4 linked regions of the Homo sapiens genome follow. The protein of the gene in region 1 interacts with the protein of each later gene in a biochemical or structural test. Each region holds a gene or a part of one and is shown in the gene's direction. Other genes may lie near its edges.

Evidence for each region.
Region 2: the proteins of ITSN1 (region 1) and AJUBA interact in a test that uses a peptide from one of them, tested with the Homo sapiens proteins (one large-scale study listed by BioGRID).
Region 3: the proteins of ITSN1 (region 1) and SCAMP1 form a complex in vitro, tested with the Homo sapiens proteins (one study listed by BioGRID).
Region 4: the proteins of ITSN1 (region 1) and NR5A1 interact in a surface display test, tested with the Homo sapiens proteins (one large-scale study listed by IntAct).

The regions. Positions count from the first base shown.
Region 1 is NC_000021.9:33,883,043-33,887,876, forward strand, and holds part of ITSN1 (intersectin-1), read left to right. Parts: intron 1-507; coding exon 508-629; intron 630-1,998; coding exon 1,999-2,081; intron 2,082-2,396; coding exon 2,397-2,480; intron 2,481-3,244; coding exon 3,245-3,418; intron 3,419-4,834. UniProt on the Homo sapiens protein: Adapter protein that provides a link between the endocytic membrane traffic and the actin assembly machinery. Acts as a guanine nucleotide exchange factor (GEF) for CDC42, and thereby stimulates actin nucleation mediated by WASL and the ARP2/3 complex.
Region 2 is NC_000014.9:22,971,851-22,976,684, reverse strand, and holds part of AJUBA (LIM domain-containing protein ajuba), read left to right. Parts: coding exon 1-40; intron 41-166; coding exon 167-229; intron 230-1,580; coding exon 1,581-1,711; intron 1,712-1,794; coding exon 1,795-1,846; intron 1,847-2,569; coding exon 2,570-2,638; intron 2,639-3,116; coding exon 3,117-3,242; 3' UTR 3,243-4,834.
Region 3 is NC_000005.10:78,415,484-78,420,317, forward strand, and holds part of SCAMP1 (secretory carrier-associated membrane protein 1), read left to right. Parts: intron 1-36; coding exon 37-135; intron 136-1,057; coding exon 1,058-1,166; intron 1,167-3,291; coding exon 3,292-3,420; intron 3,421-4,834. UniProt on the Homo sapiens protein: Functions in post-Golgi recycling pathways. Acts as a recycling carrier to the cell surface.
Region 4 is NC_000009.12:124,489,699-124,494,532, reverse strand, and holds part of NR5A1 (steroidogenic factor 1), read left to right. Parts: intron 1-1,383; coding exon 1,384-1,503; intron 1,504-3,304; coding exon 3,305-3,452; intron 3,453-4,834. UniProt on the Homo sapiens protein: Transcriptional activator. Essential for sexual differentiation and formation of the primary steroidogenic tissues. Binds to the Ad4 site found in the promoter region of steroidogenic P450 genes such as CYP11A, CYP11B and CYP21B.

The DNA.
Region 1 (4,834 bases):
AGGCAGCAGTTAGCTTTATTATGGGAAAAAAAAGAGCTATGTAGTTATATAGTTACTAGAAACTTCATGTGAAAATCTTTGGAGGGAATTGCTTGATGTAAAGTGGATGAAAACTGCTGTTTAGAATACACCAGGAAAAGCGACACCAGCCAGATCTTATTCTGAAAGACTTAAAACATACCCGCAAAATCGTGGGCGGGGGAACCCATATTTATCATATTTATAATTTGTAATATGTAAAAGTTGATGCTAACCCAAAATTATTATTCTGGGATTCTTTACTGGAAAACACACACGCCCTTAGTCTGGTTTACTGGAACACACCCAGAAACACACACACATGCTCAGTCTAGGTTACTGAAACACACGCACGAGTGTGCACACACGCGCTGACTTGCAGTCTCGTTTACTAGAACACATTGGCATAAGTGTGCTCACACACTCACGGTTTACCGGAGCACACAGACCCCCAGCCTCGCTTTGTAATGCCTGTGTGTTACTTTCCAGCCTATTTTCCTAAATGAGGTTCTAGTAAAATTACCCACCGACCCTTCTGGAGACGAGCCCATCTTCCACATCTCCCACATTGACCGCGTCTATACTCTCCGAGCAGAAAGCATAAATGAAAGGTGAGACCTGCCGCCTCCCCAGCATGGGCCCCAGGGCTCCACGGCTCTAGGACACACAAGGGGCGGGTGATTAATCAGGTGCCAATGTTTCCCAAGTGGCAATGCCATCACCCCTAGCTGGGAGTGGGGATGGGGCTATTACTTTTTTCTACAGCCTCTCAAAAATCTGTCACATGGCATGCCCTTTCCAAAATAACATGGATTCAAACTAATTTTGCTTGAGTTTTTTTTTTTTTTTTTTTTTTTAAGGCAGAGTCTCACTCTGTCACCCAGGCTGGAGTGCAGTAGTGCAGTCACAGCTCACTGCAGCCTTAACCTCCTGGGCTCAGGTAATCCTCCCACCCTAGCCTCCCAGGTATGTGGGACTACAGGCATGTGCTACCAAGCCTGGCTAATTCTTTATATTTTTTTGTAGAGATGGGTTCTTGCCATGTTGCCCAGGCTGGTCTTAAACTCCTGGGCTCAAGGGATCCACCCGCCTTGGCCTCCCAGAATGCCAGAATTCTGGGATTACAGGGGTGAGCCACTGCACCTGGCATTGTTGTTGTTGTTGTTGTTGTTTTATTAAGAAATGTTTCGCATTCTTTGAGGTAAACAGAGCATCTCAGGTTTCCCCTGGCTTCCCAGGTGGCAGAAACCAATAGGAAAGTAATTTCGGGGTTAATAGGACCACGCAAACCCAAACCTCTCCTCACCTTGGCTGACTTAAATGGGCATTCTGGAACCTAGGGCTGTGGGTATTTTGCTTCAATCTGTCTTCAAGACACTGCCCTGGAGCCAAATGAAATAGATCATTTTCTGAAGGGTGAACTTGACACAAGGCCAGCATCATTCCAAAGAGCATTTGCACCAAGCAAGAAAATTGGCTAAAGCTTTTGTGCATATGGTTCTCAGAAAAAATGAAGGAGAAAACCGCGGCCACAAATGCCTTCCCCCAAGGCGTTTTGGTCTTTCGTGTGAAGTGGTTCCCAATCTGGGAAGTGGTTTTTGTTCTTTCTTTGCGTGATTTCATAAGCGAGATCCTTCTGGCTTTGTTGGATTAGGCAAATATGTGCTGCTCTTCGGTAAGGAAGGAAGAGGAGTCGTGTCCCGATGTTGCCTCCAAGACAGCATCTATCACAGATTTTCTTCCCCGGGGACATCATCGCAGGTCTTGAGGACATCCATGGAAATGGCCCTCATGCCTTTCTTATCGATGGCAGGAATAAGTATTAGCGTCACGTGACATAAAATCAGATTTTCTTTCCCGAGCCTTTGTTGTTAAAATCAAATGAACAAAGAAACAGAGTCCTGGCAACAGTGTTTGAACAGACCTGAAGCCTTTTTCCTGAGTTTCTGTTTGGCAACTTTCTGTCTTTTTCTGTCCAAGGACTGCCTGGGTGCAGAAAATCAAAGCTGCTTCTGAACTCTACATAGAGACTGAGAAAAAGAAGCGCGAGAAAGCGTACCTGGGTAATGCATGGCCCCGCGGGGTGTCCTGCACAGCTGGGCAGGAGGGAGGGCCATTTGGCTGGGCTGAAAATCCTCAGAATAGAAGAATCCCCTGGACCTAGAGGAGGGGCATGGAATGAGATGGAAGTGAGCTTGGGGTGGGATGCAGATGGGGATGGAGGGCAAATTCCAGGAGCAAGGAAGCAAGTGTTTAAGGAGAGGGAAGAATTACTTTTGAGTCGGGAGAGGTACATGAAATGCATTGTGAGGCTCACAGAGATGGGAAAGGTGTGGCACGTTCAAATGAAGCATTTTGTGTTTTTCCTGCCGTCATAGTCCGTTCCCAAAGGGCAACAGGCATTGGAAGGTTGATGGTGAACGTGGTTGAAGGCATCGAGTTGAAACCCTGTCGGTCACATGGTAAGGCTGTGAGGCGCCCCCGGCTCCTGCTTTGGGGTTGGGAGTAGGGTCCGGGTTCCCCACACCCCCACCTGGCTCTAGATCAAATGTGCTATTTCCATACTCCCTGATCTCCTTCCAGAATTGGTTTAACTAGCACTTGTTAAAAACCTGGAGGTTTTGTGTTTTTTTTTCCATCCTTTCTACCATTCTGCTTCTCCGAGGGATCTGAGTGGCTGCATTCACAGTGGATGTGACACAAGATCAGGCCAAAGTAACGAGACAGGAAGGGCCTAGTTTCAAAGCCCACTCAATTAAGTATTTGTTTTTAGTTTAAGGATGAAGCTGACTTCTGGGAGTTTCCACCCGGATTCTCCACCGAATGACACTTATTAAGCATAGCAGTTATTAAGAGTGGGGAGCGGCCGGGCATGGTGGCTCACACCTGTAATCCCAGTGCTTTGGGAGGCCAAAGCAGGTGGATCACCTGAGGTCAGGAGTTTGAGACCAGCCTGGCCAACATGGTGAAAGCCCGTCTTTACTAAAAATATAAAAAATTAGCCAGGCATGGGGGCAGCCACCTGTAATACCAGCTATTCATTCAGGAGACTGAGGCAGGAGAATCACTTGAGCTCAGGAGGTGGAGGTTGCAATGAGCTGAGATCATACCACTGCACTGCAGCCTGGGCGACAGAGCAAGAATCCATCTAAAAAAAAAAAAAAAAAAGAGTGGAGATCAAAATGAGGTGTGAGTTCCACCTGGCGAAGGCTTTTGTTCCCTCCAGGAAAGAGCAACCCGTACTGTGAGGTGACCATGGGTTCCCAGTGCCACATCACCAAGACGATCCAGGACACTCTGAACCCCAAGTGGAATTCCAACTGCCAGTTCTTCATCCGAGACCTGGAGCAGGAAGTCCTCTGCATCACTGTGTTCGAGAGGGACCAGTTCTCACCAGATGGTGAGTGGAACGCGGCCCTGTGGTTATTCCTCCTTCCCTGGCACTCGTTTGCGTGGGTTAATGTTTTCTTACCTGGGGACTTGGTGCCAGGATTCCTTCGGTTTCCCTCCTGAGAGATGAGGCTGGCTGGCACAAGACGAGGCTCTGTCTCCCCTGGAGGAGTCTTCTGGAGGCGTCTCATTGCATGTGGACAGAGCATGCTTGGTCTAGAATTGTGCCAGCTGCCCTGGGCAAACACGTCCATCTTCTGCTTTCCAAAGCAGGTGACTGTGGAGAGGGGTGTGTTTAAGAGCCTCAGCATAGTTCTTCAGTCCTTGGCAAAAAGCTGTGCTGGCAATGGATGAAACTGGCCAATGGAACAAGGATGTTAGCCCACAACAGGAGCCGCAGAATGGGCCAGGTCCCTTTGGGTGGCATTTTTGTACCACTTATTAAGTAGGCAAAGGGATGCAGTCATGTTGAATGAATCATTTCTTCAGCCAGCCTTCTGTTTCTGCTTGGGCCTGGAAAAGAATAGTCTCAGCCCAATGATTCCAAGAAACTACCTGTCTCTCCCTCAACCCAATAAAAATCACCGGTGGGCATGGTGCTGCAGGCCTGGAATCCCAACACTTTGGGAGGCTGAGGCAGGAGGATCGCTTAAGCCCAGGAGTCTAAGACCAGCCTGGGCAACATAGTGGGACCTTGTCTCTACAAAAAAATACAAAACTTAGCCAGGCATGGTGGCATGCACCTGTAGTTCCAGCTACTCGGGAGGCTGAGGCAGGAGGATTGCTTGAGCCTGGGAGGTCGAGGCTGCAGTGAGCCATGATGGTACCACTATATTCCAGCCTGGGCAACAGAGCAAGATCCTGTCTCCAAAAAAAAAAAAATCACAGAGTAAGTTAAAAGATTATGGTCTCAACTTAATTATAACCGAAGAAGTGAGGGTCAAATGCTAGCATTATCTGTACAAGGTTTAAATGGCTCCATATGGCCTTCATCTTTTAGTACTTTTTATATGAATTATCTCATTGTGAGTTAGGTACTCGTTGTGGTAGCTGGTTAAATGTTTGAGTGTGACTGGAACAGTTTGGCTCCCAAGTCTGGGCTCTTAACTACTATGTGTACTGTCAACTTCTAATTCTTTTTTCTTTTTATTTTTTTTATTTATTTATCTTTTTTCTTGTTGTTCTCGCTCTGTCACTCAGGCTGGAGCACAGTGGTGCAATCACAGCTCACTGCAGCCTCCACCTCCCAGGCTCAAGCAATCCTCCTGCCTCAGCCTCCTAAGTAGCAGGGATGACAGGCATGAACCACCATGCTAGGCTAATTTTTAAAAATTTTTTGTAGAGACAGGGTCTCACTCTATTGCCCAGGCTGGTGTCAAACTCCTGGACTCAAGTGATCCTCCTGCCTCGGCCTCCCAAAGTGCTG
Region 2 (4,834 bases), on another chromosome or scaffold:
CAGTGTCAATGGCTCTGTGTACTGTGAGGAAGATTATCTGGTGAGTAAGGGTCACCTGGACCTGGAATTGGTTTCCATACTGACCCCCTTCTTGGTGGCCCATTGGAGTACCACCCATCATTCTCAGTTTGATAACAGCCTCCGTTCGTCTTGTCTTTTACTTTAGTTTTCAGGGTTTCAGGAGGCAGCTGAGAAATGCTGTGTCTGTGGTCACTTGATTTTGGAGAAGGTAAGTAAAGTGCTTTCAGCTGAGAAGTCTCACTGTGAGGCTGAGGAGCGGGATCAGGGACTAAATGGATATTGAGAGAAGGTTGGGGAAAGAAGCCTGTCACCAGATGAATCACTTTCATCCCATTCCTCCCCAGAGCAACTGTTTACAGTGGCTTCCCTCTGCCTATGGGATCAAGTCTGGGCTCAAAAGCCTGTCAACCCAGGCTTCTATGACCTAGCCCCTCCCTAACTCTGCAGGCACAGCCAGGCCTTCCAGCCTGAGCTAGGAGTGTGGGGTCCTGAGTCTTTTTTTTTTTTTTTTTTTTGAGACAGAGTCTCGCTCTGACAAAGTGGAATGATCTCGGCTCACTGCAACCTCCGCCTCCCAGGTTCAAGTGATTCTAGTGCCTCAGCCTCCCAAGTAGCTAGGACTACAGGCATGCGCCACCATGCCTGGCTAATTTTTGTATGTTTAGTAGATAAAAGGTTTTGCCATGTTGGCCAGGCTGGTCTCGAATTCCTGGCCTCAAGTGATCCTCCTGCCTCAGCCTCCCAAAGTGCTAGATTATAGGCGTGAGCCACCATGCCCAGCCTGGGGTCCTGAGTCGTCTTCTTTTTTTTTTTTTTGAGATGGAGTCTCACTCTGTTGCCCAGGCTGGAGTCCAGTGGTGCGATCTCGGCTTACTGCAAGCTCCGCCTCCTGGTTCACGCCATTCTCCTGCCTAGCTGGGACTACAGGCGCCCGCCACATGCCCGGCTAATTTTTTGGTGTGTTTTTAGTAGAGACGGGGTTTCACTGTGTTAGCCAGTATGGTCTCGATCTCCTGACCTTGTGATCCGCCCACCTCGGCCTCCCAAAGTGCTGGGATTACAGGCGTAAGCCGCCGCGCCCGGCCAGTCCTGAGTCTTAATCCCCTTTCTGCTACTGGTTAGAATCACTTGGGACTCAGTTTTCTTTTCTGTAAAAACAAAAGATAGGATTAAATCAGTGATTCTCAATCATGGTAGCCTAGCAGATCAGCTGGGAAGAACTAAAAAACAAAACAAAACAAAAAACAGTGTTTGGATCCCATCACCACAGATTGTGATAATAGGCCTGGAGGAGGGCCAAAGCATTGATGTTTTTTAAAAGCTGCCTAGGTGATCCTGATATGCAGCCAGAGTGAAACACTGCTGGCCTGAATGCTCTCTCAGGCACTTTTCAGGGTCTCCGCCTCCATTTTACGACTTCTTCACCGACATTACATAGCATTGTTCTGGGAGTATAGCAGCGGGTTGGATGAGGTTAATGGGAGTAATAAGGAGCATAATGGGCAGCTGGAGAGCTGGGACTGGAGGGAGACTGATTCTCTTGCTACCCCATGAGCCAGATCCTACAAGCAATGGGGAAGTCCTATCATCCAGGCTGTTTCCGATGCATTGTTTGCAACAAGTGCCTGGATGGCATCCCCTTCACAGTGGACTTCTCCAACCAAGTATACTGTGTCACCGACTACCACAAGTGAGTCTGCCCCTTGGGATGCAGTGTGGAACTGGGTCCAGGGATTCCCCAGCCTCAGCTCATCTCTTCCCTCTCTCTTTCAGAAATTATGCTCCTAAGTGTGCAGCCTGTGGCCAACCCATCCTCCCCTCTGAGGTCAGTATGTCTGGGTTCTCCTTCAGGGCAGCCAGTGCCACTGCCTTTGGGGAGGGGATAGGGACATGCTGCCTGGCCTCCTGCCAGAAGTGGTAGTGCCAAGGAATGTACTCTGTGAAGATTCCCGTGTGACTCTGCCTCTTGGGGTCACCACCCTGACCCTAATATCCGGGCCTGGACATGTCTGAAAGCCTAACTGGGCCCAGGCTCCATCTCTTCTATCCCAGTCCAGAGGAGGAGACTTTCTTTGAGGTCGAGGTCACCAGACTGCAGATGTAGGGGCTGGAAAAAGGTGGGAAGAATCCTCAGCACTGGTAGGAAGGGGTCAGAAATGATTTAAGCTGAGTGTAGGGGATGTGCCTATGGAGAGAAACCAAAAGCCAGTGAGGACCAGATCTTATTGGATCCCCTTGTTCCCAGCCTAGCCTACTTTATTTAGGCCTCCTGTCCCCTTCCCTTCCCTTTGCTTCCTGCACAACTGAGAGACGCAGGTAAGGCCAGGGCTGTTGTACAGAGGGAGTGTGCTCCATGGGTGCAGCCCAGTGAAGGAGATGAGAGTTCTGGTAGGATTTGCAGAAGCATCTTAAAACTACAGGTGATTGCAGAGAGACTCTGGGGGCATTTGTATGATCTTCCCATGGGGTGGGAAGGGTTGTATATGAGGGAAAGGTGGAGGTGAGGCAACATGCTGCTCTCATCTCCATGGGGGTCTGCATGTTTCAGGGCTGTGAGGACATCGTGAGGGTGATATCCATGGACCGGGATTATCACTTTGAGTGCTACCACTGTGAGGTGAGTGTTGGGGTTCAGCGGTGCTGGAGAAGAAGTGGAAATGGGGAGAGGGGAGGAGTCAAGTCCTGCAACAACCAGACATCTATGGGAGAGGTGTAGGGCATGGGAAACCAGAAAGATATTGTGACCTATCTTCAGTCTCTTTTTTGTCCTCCAGCCACTCTCTCTGGTCCAAGTAGCTTAGTCCTTTCTGAATCTGACTCTCCCAGAGTCAGGACTTTCTAAGACTAGGGACTCTGGTCAAACTTCTTGAAAGACAGGCTTGTGTCATTATTTCTGCTGCAGCAGTGACACCTGGTGTCCAGCTGAGGTATTAGTATTTTCTCAGATTGCTCTTCCATCCCTTCCATCCTTCCCTTCCCACCCCATCCCTTTCTTCCAGTTATTAGGAGTCAGGTGTTGAGCAGGGCAGACTCCTAAGATACCCTCAGTGTCCAAGGTGCCTAGGCTGAGGTGAACTAGGTGCCTTCTTCCCTAGGACTGCCGGATGCAGCTGAGTGATGAGGAAGGCTGCTGCTGTTTCCCTCTGGATGGGCACTTGCTCTGCCATGGTTGCCACATGCAGCGGCTCAATGCCCGACAACCCCCTGCCAACTATATCTGAGCTGCAATCACTGCTGCTGCTGTCACCCTGCAGACAAACTGCTGTGGCCAGTGGGCCCCTCTGAGGCCAGCCAAGGCAAAGAATGCACTCTGCAGGCCTGGCAGAAGAGTCCTCTGGGGAGGACCCCAAGGGCCGGAGACCCAAAGATCATGATATTCCAAATGGATTGTGGAAGAGAAACCTTATATTTACCAGGGTGGGGGCGACTGGCCTTTTTCCCATGTGTGCAGTCTGAGCTTAGGCACACACAGGAGGGTTCCAGGACTTTCTGAACATCTGATTCTGTATCTTCAGTATATATATTTTGTTTGTTTTAGAGATGGGATCTCACCATGTTGCCCAGGCTAGTCTTGAACTCCTGGGCTCGAATGATCCTCCCACCTTGGCCTCCCAAAGTGCTGGGATTATAGGCGTAAGCCACTGTGTCTGGCCTAGTGTATGATTATGCATGAGTCACGCAATGTTCTGGTCCTGGATTCCAGGAGTAGAGGACCTAGCTTTAAATCAATTAGTTTCAGCTAAACTGACTAGAACCAAATCAAAGTGTAATTCTCCCTCCAGCTCCCCCAAACCCCAGAGTTTTGGGGTTGTGGTTGATGCAGTGTGGGATGTCCCTGAGAGGTAGCAAGTCTAGGGTGGTGAGTTCCTGCTAGGCAACCAAATTTAAGCTCCTCACTTTTTGTGACACATGGTGTCAGATATGGGGTCCCGCACCTATATCTGGATGAAGAGGTAGAAACTCTGGACCTCATTAATGAGTTATTTCTTGGCCTTCTTCTAAGGACTAGGAGAGCTCCTTATCTGTCTGAGAATGGGGACCAGCTCTGAGTGGGGTTGCTGCCTGTATTCCCTGTTTCTCAGGAACTTACATGGGTCTGGGGAGGCTAGGTAGGTGATTGTACGTGGTTGCTCTTCTCCTTGGCTGGGGGAGGTAATGAGCAGATCTCTGTGGGTGTGGAGCTTGTTGGGGGGATGTCTAGGAAGCTTCAGCTTAGCCACATTCCCAAGTTTAGGTGCACTGAGCCATATAGCCCAGTGTATGCATGTGTGGGTGTGTTCATGCACACACACACTCTCTCTCTTGTCTCTCTGTCTCTCTCTCACTCTTTCTTACTCTCTTCTCAGGTCACTTGTACACTTGGTTTCCTAGTAGAAGCTCACTTGCCACCTCTCAGAGGGGTCCCGGATTGCATCCATCACAATCCCAAAACTAGAGTTGGGGGGAACTGGAGGGAGCAAAACACTGATTTGATACTAGTCAGTTTGCTTGAAACTAGTTCACCTAAAGCTAGATCTCTTAAAACCAATTTACTGAAAACTTGTTTGCTTAAAGTTAATGACTTAATGACTAATTTGCCAAAAGCTCAATTCCTATTTTGGTGTGTTTATATCCATTTAGGTGTCCTATTCTTTTTTGTCATGCTTTGGATATTTCAAGGATTTATATCTATTCATCCAAGAGTACTTCTGAGCTATTATCAGCAACATAAATTTATCAAATTTGCAGCACTTTGTAAATGATGAGATTGCTTCCTACCTTTATGGATGTCTTTTTCTATGTTATCTACCATTCAAAAACTTTTTTAAAAAGT
Region 3 (4,834 bases), on another chromosome or scaffold:
TGTGTTACATAATTTTCCTTCTCTTAATCCTCCTAGCCTCCACCAGGCGGTGTGAAGATGCCTAATGTACCCAATACACAACCAGCAATAATGAAACCAACAGAGGAACATCCAGCTTATACACAGATTGCAAAGGTTAGTTCATGTTAGTTGTATAAATTCATATTGGCCATTATAATATCAATAACATTTGCTTTCAGAGCAAAATAAATCTTTATATGGTTACATTTCTGTTGCTTAATTTTTAACTCACTTTCAAGTCTGGATTTGCTGTCTTGTCACCCTTCAAATACTCATTCCTCTTTTTGTCAGCTTATACCATTTGCTTTATTCCATTATTAGGAATTATTGAATTTATGTATCATCTCAGTGGATAAATTTTTATTGCCTTTGGTCCCACTTTTTAATGCACACTACCATTAAGGTAAAAATGATGGAATAATAGATATTATTGGGAGAGCGTTGCAATGGTAAAATAACAGTGTTAGGAGGTAGAAGATGGCAAAAATCTGAGAAGAAAGGAGATTAATAAGATGCCTGATAGCATGTAAGGGCAAATTGAGTTATAAAGAATTTCTTAATCACATCTTTTGACCTCATTCTCCTATAACATTTAAGATATTAGAAAATATTCTTGCATTGGTGGCCTTATATATCATTTAATCTGATTAATAGGAGCCAATTCAGTTGCCCTTTTTTCTATTGTTCATTTTCCTCAACTGTTCCCATTGCCTCTGTTCTTCACTCATTTAGGCATAGAGGTCATCTTAATTTCATTTTCCAGATTACCTAAAGATTGTGACTACTTTTACTAAGAGAAGTTTTCCTCTCCTAATGGACCCAACATTCCCACTGAGAGTTTCTGGAACCCAAAGACCAAATGGACCAAATATCCTCATAATATTTTCTGTAACTATGATCTTCAGTAAATTCCTGTACTTTGGAAGTGTGTTTGAATTAGGTTTCTCTCATAGTAGAGAAGTAGGAGTTAGCATATAAATGTTAAAGTATTTTATACTTCTGACAGTCTATTCACATATTGATATTTTTTATTTAGGAACATGCATTGGCCCAAGCTGAACTTCTTAAGCGCCAGGAAGAACTAGAAAGAAAAGCCGCAGAATTAGATCGTCGGGAACGAGAAATGCAAAACCTCAGTCAACATGGTAGTATCCAAAGAAATTTGAAATAAAAATAACTTTTAAATACTTTACATTATGTCTATACTAGCTCCTAGGTCATTTGGCCTGTGGATAAAACCCTACCCTGTTTTCCTGTTCTAACAAGGAGATCAGACACAGCAGATTGCCTGTTTGATACTCTGTAGCCTTCTAATCTTGGCTGATTTGCATAGTCTTTTGTTGATAGCTTAGAACAGTGTTAGCCTCATCACACAGAAAATGAATGTGAATATGATAATTTTTGCTTACTCTGAGGCCAGGAGCCTTTGATTCTGCAGTTAGGCCCTCCTTGGTTCTGTGGACTCTTTATGAGTACATTTGCATGTACCCTACATTTGACTTTTACCTGATTTATTCAGGTTAATTTCAGATTATCTGCCCCAGTCCTCGCAAGTATTTTGTCAAATCATGTTAGAAAAATTGGAAGCCTAAGGTATTCATATGATGCCAAAGAAATAAGTGGTGAATTGTTGCAGTGAATTCTATTAAGTTTGTGCCTGCCAAAGCACTTCAAAGGAGTCTCTTAGGGAAAGCTAGCAGTCTCTGAGTAAGAAGAGATAAAAGAGCTAGATAAGTCATTGTTAGGATGTCTGGGATAGTGATGCAATGCAAAGCTAGAACAATAACAATATACAGAACTATTTCTTTTTAACTTAGAATGTGTAAGTCTAGGGCCTCATGAGAACACATTTATCCTGGGTCATTTTCTTGCTTGCAGCATCAGAGGTAGCATCTATAGAAGGAGAAACTAAAAGTTGAACTGGGACCAATGTTTCTGAAGTACCTGTAACTAAAATCCATCCTATTTCTTTAGCACTGGCAAATACAAACTATTTCTATGAGAGTTATGTTAGTAAAGACAGTAACAAAGAGTAGGAAATTAACAATTAGACTGCAGTATGTTAGCACATTTTAGTACTTTTCCCCTCTTAACTCATACTTAAATCATCAATACAATCCTGTGAGGGGTGATAGAGTTTTTATTCTCATTTTACAGATATGGAAACTAAGGCTCGGAGGAGAGAGTAAGTTGCCCAAGGCGACCTTGCCAGTAAGTGGCTAGCCACTTCTGGTTCCAGAGCCTCTCTTCTTTACGAGTATTCACTGCCGCTTCTCAAATAGTATGAGATTGGTATGAGAAATGAACTATATGAAATTTGAATAGTATGATAAATGGAACACAGGAGACTCATTGGGGAGAATCAGAAATAGGTTATTGTTCTTTCTATAAAAATTACCCTGGTCTGGGAAAAGTAGGTAAAATTGAATTTTTAAAAACTGTGGGATATAACATCTAAAATCGGGAAATGGCCTTAGGTGCTGTTTTTACCCGCTATTTTCATGTTTTGACTTCTTTATTTTAATTTTTTATTTCCCCCACCATTTCTCAAGTCTTATTTTTAATCTGGTTTCTTTATGTAGACACATTTTTTTCCCTTTACAGTTTGAATTTGTTTTTCTCTGCATTTTTAAAGGTTCTATAATTCTTCAGCTTCCTTATCATGACTGTTTCATGTTTTCTTTGTTGTAGGGTTTTCGTACATGTATCTTTTGGATATTATTTTTTCCCAGATTTTGAGTATTCTAAATTTGATTCTTTGGTATTGGTTTAATCTTGGACTTAACAGAAAACTTGAAAAAATTAGAAGCTAGTCTTTCTCCACTTGAGATAGGAATTATAACAGAATTATATTTGAAGATTTAAGATGCTGAGGAGAAAATTGAAGTTTAAAAACTGGATGGCCCTTTCATGCCAGCCAGACTCTTTGGACTGTGAAATAAATCTGTTTTAGGGTAGAAGCACTGGATATGTGCTTTCTTTTTGTTTCTTGTTTTTTCTGTACATAAATGGTTCCTGCTAAACATGGTATGATATGACACTGGAAAATTATTTTACTATCTAATGTGCTCTAAGGTGATGATATTCTGAGAAAATTTTTTAAAAATCTAAAGCTTGTCTTTCAGAGTTCTAGGAATACAAAGATATAGTTCTACAGTTTTTCTGAACTTTTGTTAACATAATAGAGTTTTTCTTTATTATGAAACAAAAAATAATATCACATTTGTTATAATATAAATAACCTTTTCTTTTTCTAAAAAAAATTTACAGGTAGAAAAAATAATTGGCCACCTCTTCCTAGCAATTTTCCTGTCGGACCTTGTTTCTATCAGGATTTTTCTGTAGACATTCCTGTAGAATTCCAAAAGACAGTAAAGCTTATGTACTACTTGTGGATGTGTGAGTATACAACAATTTACATCTTTGCTTAGAATTTGTATTTTTGTTGTCAAAATCCGCATTTTTATTTCAAGGATAGTATAGCAAACCAGTCTTCTTTTTCTATAGATAAAGCTTAATAATCATGATTTCAGAGTGAAACATATCCTATTTAGGTACTTCAGAATTGTACTATATGTGACAATGTAAGTCCTTGGCTGAGAAAAACTTGTATGTTGAGAACTGGCATTCTTTTGAGGAAAAGACAACTTCTCTGTCATGTGGGTAAAATTTTATAAGATTCTTTTTCCTTGAAAGATGTTATCTAGACATGATTTGCTTGGAAAAAATAGTGCATACTAATTTTATGCAGAGGAAGGCCATTTAAAAGAATTCTGTTAAATGTAGGCGTTTTAGCTATTTTTAAAAGGGCATAAAATTATTACATAAACTAAGTGTTCTTTTTATAGCTTTGAGTACAGTTTACTTTTTGTTTTCAATTGCGATACTTTTATTATTGAAAGTGCTTAATTAATACAGGACATTTTGTTGAACGGAACATTAGAATATACGTTTGGGGCTCTGATGCTTACATCACTTTGAGTATAATAACTCATGGAATACTGAAACAAAATGTCAAGCCGTTAACAGTTTTACTCTGTGTGCACAGACCTCCCACTTACTCTCTGTTTCATTTTTATTCCAAACAGTAGTCTCAGCCTCATTTTGATACCCTGTCAGAAGGGGAGGTAGCTATTGAGGGTTCTCACATGCACAACATCTGGGTTAATGGATAATTTGTAGGGTACATTCTTGATGGAGGAAATTTACTTGTTTTTACTTTATGATTAATGAGACTACCACCCTTCCCTTAATGGATGAGATAATTTTCCTTAAAATCTTTTAGGAGCATTCTTCATGTATGTCAAGTTGTTTTGGAATGTGAGAAGTGTTTCCTAATGGATAGTCTATTTTTAACTCTTCATTAGTATTTTTCGAGATATTCTTGATCTAATATCTTTTGCTGAATCCTCAGTGTCAGTAGTATATATTTTTAATATTAAATGTCTGATTCCATATATGTACATGCTAACCAACTCTTATTTAATCAATATAATATATGCATTTATATTTTATATATGTTTATTTTTTTAAATGGGCAGAAATTGTCCTAGCATTTTATTTTATTTTGAGACAGAGTCTTGCTTTGTTGCCTAGGCTGGAGTGCAATGGCACGATCTTGGTTCACTGCAACCTCCGCTTCCCGGGTTCAAGTGATTCTCGTGCCTCAGCCTCCTGAGTAGCTGGGACTACAGGCACATGCCATCACGCCTGGCTAATTTTTGTATTTTCATCTATACTTGGAATAATTTTCATGAACTTTAAAGTGTAATTATACATATATTTTATCTTTCTTTCAGTGGATTAGGAAATA
Region 4 (4,834 bases), on another chromosome or scaffold:
TGAAGACAGAGGCATTTAACTGATGCCATGAGATGTTGCAGATTCTGCATCCAGAGGGTGGAGAGGGCCTCGAGGAAGGAGAGGGATCAGGTAGAGGATCTGTAGAGGAGGCAAGGAGCCTGTGAGAGACCAGGAACTCCTGGATGGCAAGGAGGGTGAGTGAGAGGTCCTCTTCCACACCTAGTGGTTAAGAGCGCAAATCTGGAACTAGACAGAGCTGTGTGGCCTCTCTGTTCAGTTTCTTCTCTCTATCATGTGGGTGGCGACTATACGAAACTCGCAGGGCTGTAGGGCTGCAGTGGAATGACTGTCAGCTGTCATGGTTTGCATTTGCCATAGGGCACGGCCCAGGAAGGTGCGCCAGAAGTGTCTTTTGGGTCGATGGTGGCCAGCTGGTGAGTGGCACGGGCTGAGAGGGATGGGGCTGTGTCTGCCCAGGCCCATCTGCAGTGCCCAGTGTGCTTCCAAATACCCAGAAGGGCTCGTTTTGTCACAGTGGAGATTGTGGACCGGGAATGCCAGCCGTGGCCCTGGCCTGGCCCTGCCTCTGTGTGATCCCGGGAGAGTCTCTTGCCCTTTCCGGGTGGCGGATTCCTCAGCTGAAAAATAGGGATTGGGGCCAGGGGATCCCTGGCTCTGCTTCTGAGTCCTGCAGAGTCAAAGGACACTCCAAACAGGGGCTGGCCCTGCCCCTGCACCGAGTGTCTCTGGCCGCAGCCTGGGCATTCGGAATCAGCCCCTTGTTGCTGTTCGTTTCTGCTTCATGTGCCAGGCCATTGCCGCCCCCCTGCTCATGCCCTGGGCCTGACCTCAGGCCAGGTGGGACCTCCCTCCTCCTCCTGAGCCTGAGAGCTCTGCGTAGGCCCGGGGGGGAAGCCCTTGGTTTCTCCCTCATGGCTCCTGTTTGAGCAGTTGGGGCTGCCAGAGGTGTGACCGACCACAGGCTTTTAAATGTGGACAAGGTTAAAATTAATAATAACCTTGCCAGGCATTTGTAGGAGTCCTTTGCAGAGCACCTGCATGGACATTAGTCACTAACATGTATGGCATACCTAACATGTACTGGACTGTCCGCTCAGTACTTTGCCCACTTTACAGATGAGAAAACTGAGGCACAGAAAGGTTACCAGGACTTACGTAAAGTCATACAAAAGACAGAGGTGGGGCCTGAAGCCTGGCCCATTCAACCCCCAAACATCCCTTTGTTAACTGGCCAGACCTCTGTTGCACTTTGATAGCCTAGACATCTGGGTAGATGGGCACAGAGAGGTTAGCTTGCCCAGGCTGCACGCCTAGTTGGGTCTCAGTGGGAGGAGAAGGGGTGAGAGGAAGGTCCCTGGACCCTGGCTGGAGCCCGGCCCCCCGCGTGCCTCTTCCTTCCAGGTGGCCGACCAGATGACGCTGCTGCAGAACTGCTGGAGCGAGCTGCTGGTGTTCGACCACATCTACCGCCAGGTCCAGCACGGCAAGGAGGGCAGCATCCTGCTGGTCACCGGGCAGGAGGTGACCAGTCCCTCGGCCCCGCCCCTGGGCCCCGCCCTGGCCCCGCTGTGCACTTCCAGGATTCAGGGCCCCGGAGAGGAGGACCCAGGCCTCTCGGGGCTGGCTCTGGGCACCCTAATTATCAGCCCTTTCCCCACGTTCATGGAACACCCACTGGCCCAAACCCTCTGTGAGCAGCCCTGGCCCAGGCTTGAGAGGCGCCGGCCCCTGGGAGCCCTGCTCTTGGGGAGCAGCTCAGGGGGTGTGGGCATGGTGAGGAGAGGCTCATGGAGGAGGAGGTGATGGTGGCCCTGGGTCTGGAAATAACACACTGGAGTTGGCTGGGGAATGAGGGATGAGGGGGGCAGTCCCCACGTCTACCGCAGGCTCAGAGAGGGTGGAAGTGTGGAGCCCCCGGGCCCTGCTGGTGCCGGTGTGGGGGTGGCATGAGGTGAGAGATGAGGGAGGCTAGGGGGTTGCTAGTGCTGGCTTAGCAGGCAAACCTTGCAGGCCCTAAATCTCGAATGAATGAATGAATGAATGAATGGGCAAAGGGCTCCAGAGAGCTCAGAGTCGGAATTTGGGCCCCCTTAGAGCAGGGAATGAGGATCTGGGGAGTAGAAAGTCCAGATGCAGCAGGGGTCCGGGGAGAGCTTTAGGAGGAGGAGGGACATGGCCAGGTGGTATCTGAGGAGGCAGGCGGAGGGGTCAGGATGGGAGGTGGGGGGCCAGGGTGGGGACACGGGGGCACAGCCACGGAGGAAGACTCACCTGGAGAGATGGGCTGTAGGGAAAGAGAGGGAGGGGGGGAGGCAGAGAAGGGGGTTGATGGCCAGGGTCCAGCCTGCTGGCAGGAGTGCCACTCTCAGGTGGGGACACAGGAAGGGCCGTGGGGTCGGTGGGTGCTGTGGGGTGGGGAAGACAGACTCTGCTCCCAGCTCCAGCCCTCCCAGGCCCCCACTGCTCATCTCCAGCTCTCTCCTCGGTGTCACAGGCCATCGGGGCAGGAGGACGGGACGGGCAGCACTGGTCCCAGGGGGGTGTCTTTGGGGCTCCCTGTGAGCGCAGGTGCCTGCAGTCTGCATGAAGTGTGGGTGTCCGCAGGCTGGCTGAGTCTCTGTGGCCATGGGAATGCCTGTTTGTGTGTGTGTGTGTGTGTGCCTGCCTGTGTTTTATTGTGCAAAATCTCCACACACATCAGTGTGTGGGTGTCACTGTCTTCCCATCAACCCGTAAATGTGATCACATACATGGGTGTATGTGTTGCCGTGAGTGTGAGCGTACAAGGGCGGGTGTGGCCGTGTGCACACGTGTGTGCCTTCACTTCACAGAGTGGGCGACCCCATGACTGTGCTCGTGTGTGTGTGTGTGTGACTCTGAGCTGAGCTGTGACCCAGCGTGTAGGTGTGAACATGGGGGCTCTGGGAAGCCATGTGGATGTGTCTGTGTGTCCCCACACAGGCCTGCCCTCCCCAACCCCTCCCCTCCCAGCATGTAGAGGGGCCCCCTGAGCTGCTGGTGCTGCTGGGCCTGGTGCTGGGGTTTGTGTGTGAAGGAGGGGTGGACGCGGGCAGAACGTGGGTGCCTCAGCTCCGGGCTTGGCGGGTTGAGGAGAGCTCGGAAGGGTGGGCCCGGCAGCGTCCCCGGGGCTGTGCAGATGTTACCCGTGCCTGGCTCGGCACCAAGGCTGGGCCCTCCTGACGCCAGCCCATCTGACCTGCACCTCCAATCCATGCCCTCAGCCCTGCATCCCCCATCAGAGAGCCACCTGCCCGGACCCACGTCCTCTGACTGTCCCCCGCCCCGTGCCCTCTGCCCCCAGGTGGAGCTGACCACAGTGGCCACCCAGGCGGGCTCGCTGCTGCACAGCCTGGTGTTGCGGGCGCAGGAGCTGGTGCTGCAGCTGCTTGCGCTGCAGCTGGACCGGCAGGAGTTTGTCTGCCTCAAGTTCATCATCCTCTTCAGCCTGGGTGAGTGCAGCTCCAGTGACAGAGAGGTGGAGACAGCCAGAGGCGGGTGGGTGGGAGGGTGGGTGAGGCTGGAGAGGTAGCCCTGCTGTGGCCAGAGTGGCCACGAAGGAGCCTCGGGGAGAAAGGACCCCTCCCTTACTCATTCAGTGAACAAAGGTCTGAGGGCCCCCGGCCAGGGCCTGGCTCTTAAATGGGGGCTGCTCCCGCTCTGGTGGCCCATGTGACTTTAGGATTTTTATTCCAGGCTCCCATCCTGGGGTCCCTGTTTTCTCTAATCCCTGGATCTAGGGGGCCCCAATTTTGACTGTACCTCCTGGGGGCCTGGACCCCTTTGCTCATGCACACGTGCATCCATTCATTGACTCTACAAACAGGCACCGAGAAATTGCACTGGAGAAGGCACTGGGAATACCGCTGTGAGCAAAAACCCCCCAAGCCCAGCCCTTGTGGTACTGACCTTCTCTAGGGGAGACAGATCATGAGCATAATATGATTAGTAAGACGTAGGTTCCTAACACGATTAGGCAGGCATAGCCAGGAAGGTTGTGACCAGTGCTAAGGAGGAAAAGAAAGCAGAGGAGAGGCAGAGAGCAGGCCTGGCCCAGCCCAGCCCGGCCACCCACCTCACTCCCCAAGCACTTGGGGGGTCTCCTTCCCGTTGCCCTCCTGACCCCAACCCTGCCTGGGCCACTCCAGTCTGCACCCTCACTCCCTGGAAAGCCATCACAAATGCCCTCCCCATGCCCAGAGATGCTGAGGACATAGCTGTCCCTTGCCAATCGTGAAAAGACCTACAGCCTGGGTGGTTAGGGCTGAGACAGAGAGATGGGTGTGGCTTAGGGAACCCTGGGTGGGGAGCAGAGCTCTTTCTGGAAGGCTTCCTGGAAGAGGGGCATCTGAGCAGGGTTTTGGAGGATGAGTAGGAGTTTTCTGGGGGAATGAATTATTTTGCAGTGATGCAGGTGGGATGGGATAGAGATGAGTGAGTGCTTCATCACCTGGAGAGGGGGCAGGATTAAGGTATTGTCTTGGTGGCTGGCATTATAGTCACAGTCTGCGAGGGGCATGCCTGCCAGAGAGAGGGAGGAGTGGGGAGTGGGGAGTGTTGTGGAGGCAGAGGGGATTAACGAAAAGTGGGAAGCCCAGTGCTTGGGTGGGATTGGTGACATCCTCCATGCCATGTGGCTGGGTGCAGTGGGCTGGGTCTCCCGATTCTGGCAGAACAGGCTGGTAACTGGAGGGCTTATCTGCAAGGCCACCTTAAGCCACCTCTCAGGACACCAGCCGGGGCTCTGCAGGGGTCAGCAGGGGACAGCCATTGGGGTGGGGGGCGGGTAGGATCTTGGGCAGCCAGTTAGGAGCTGTGGCCTGAAATCCTTACA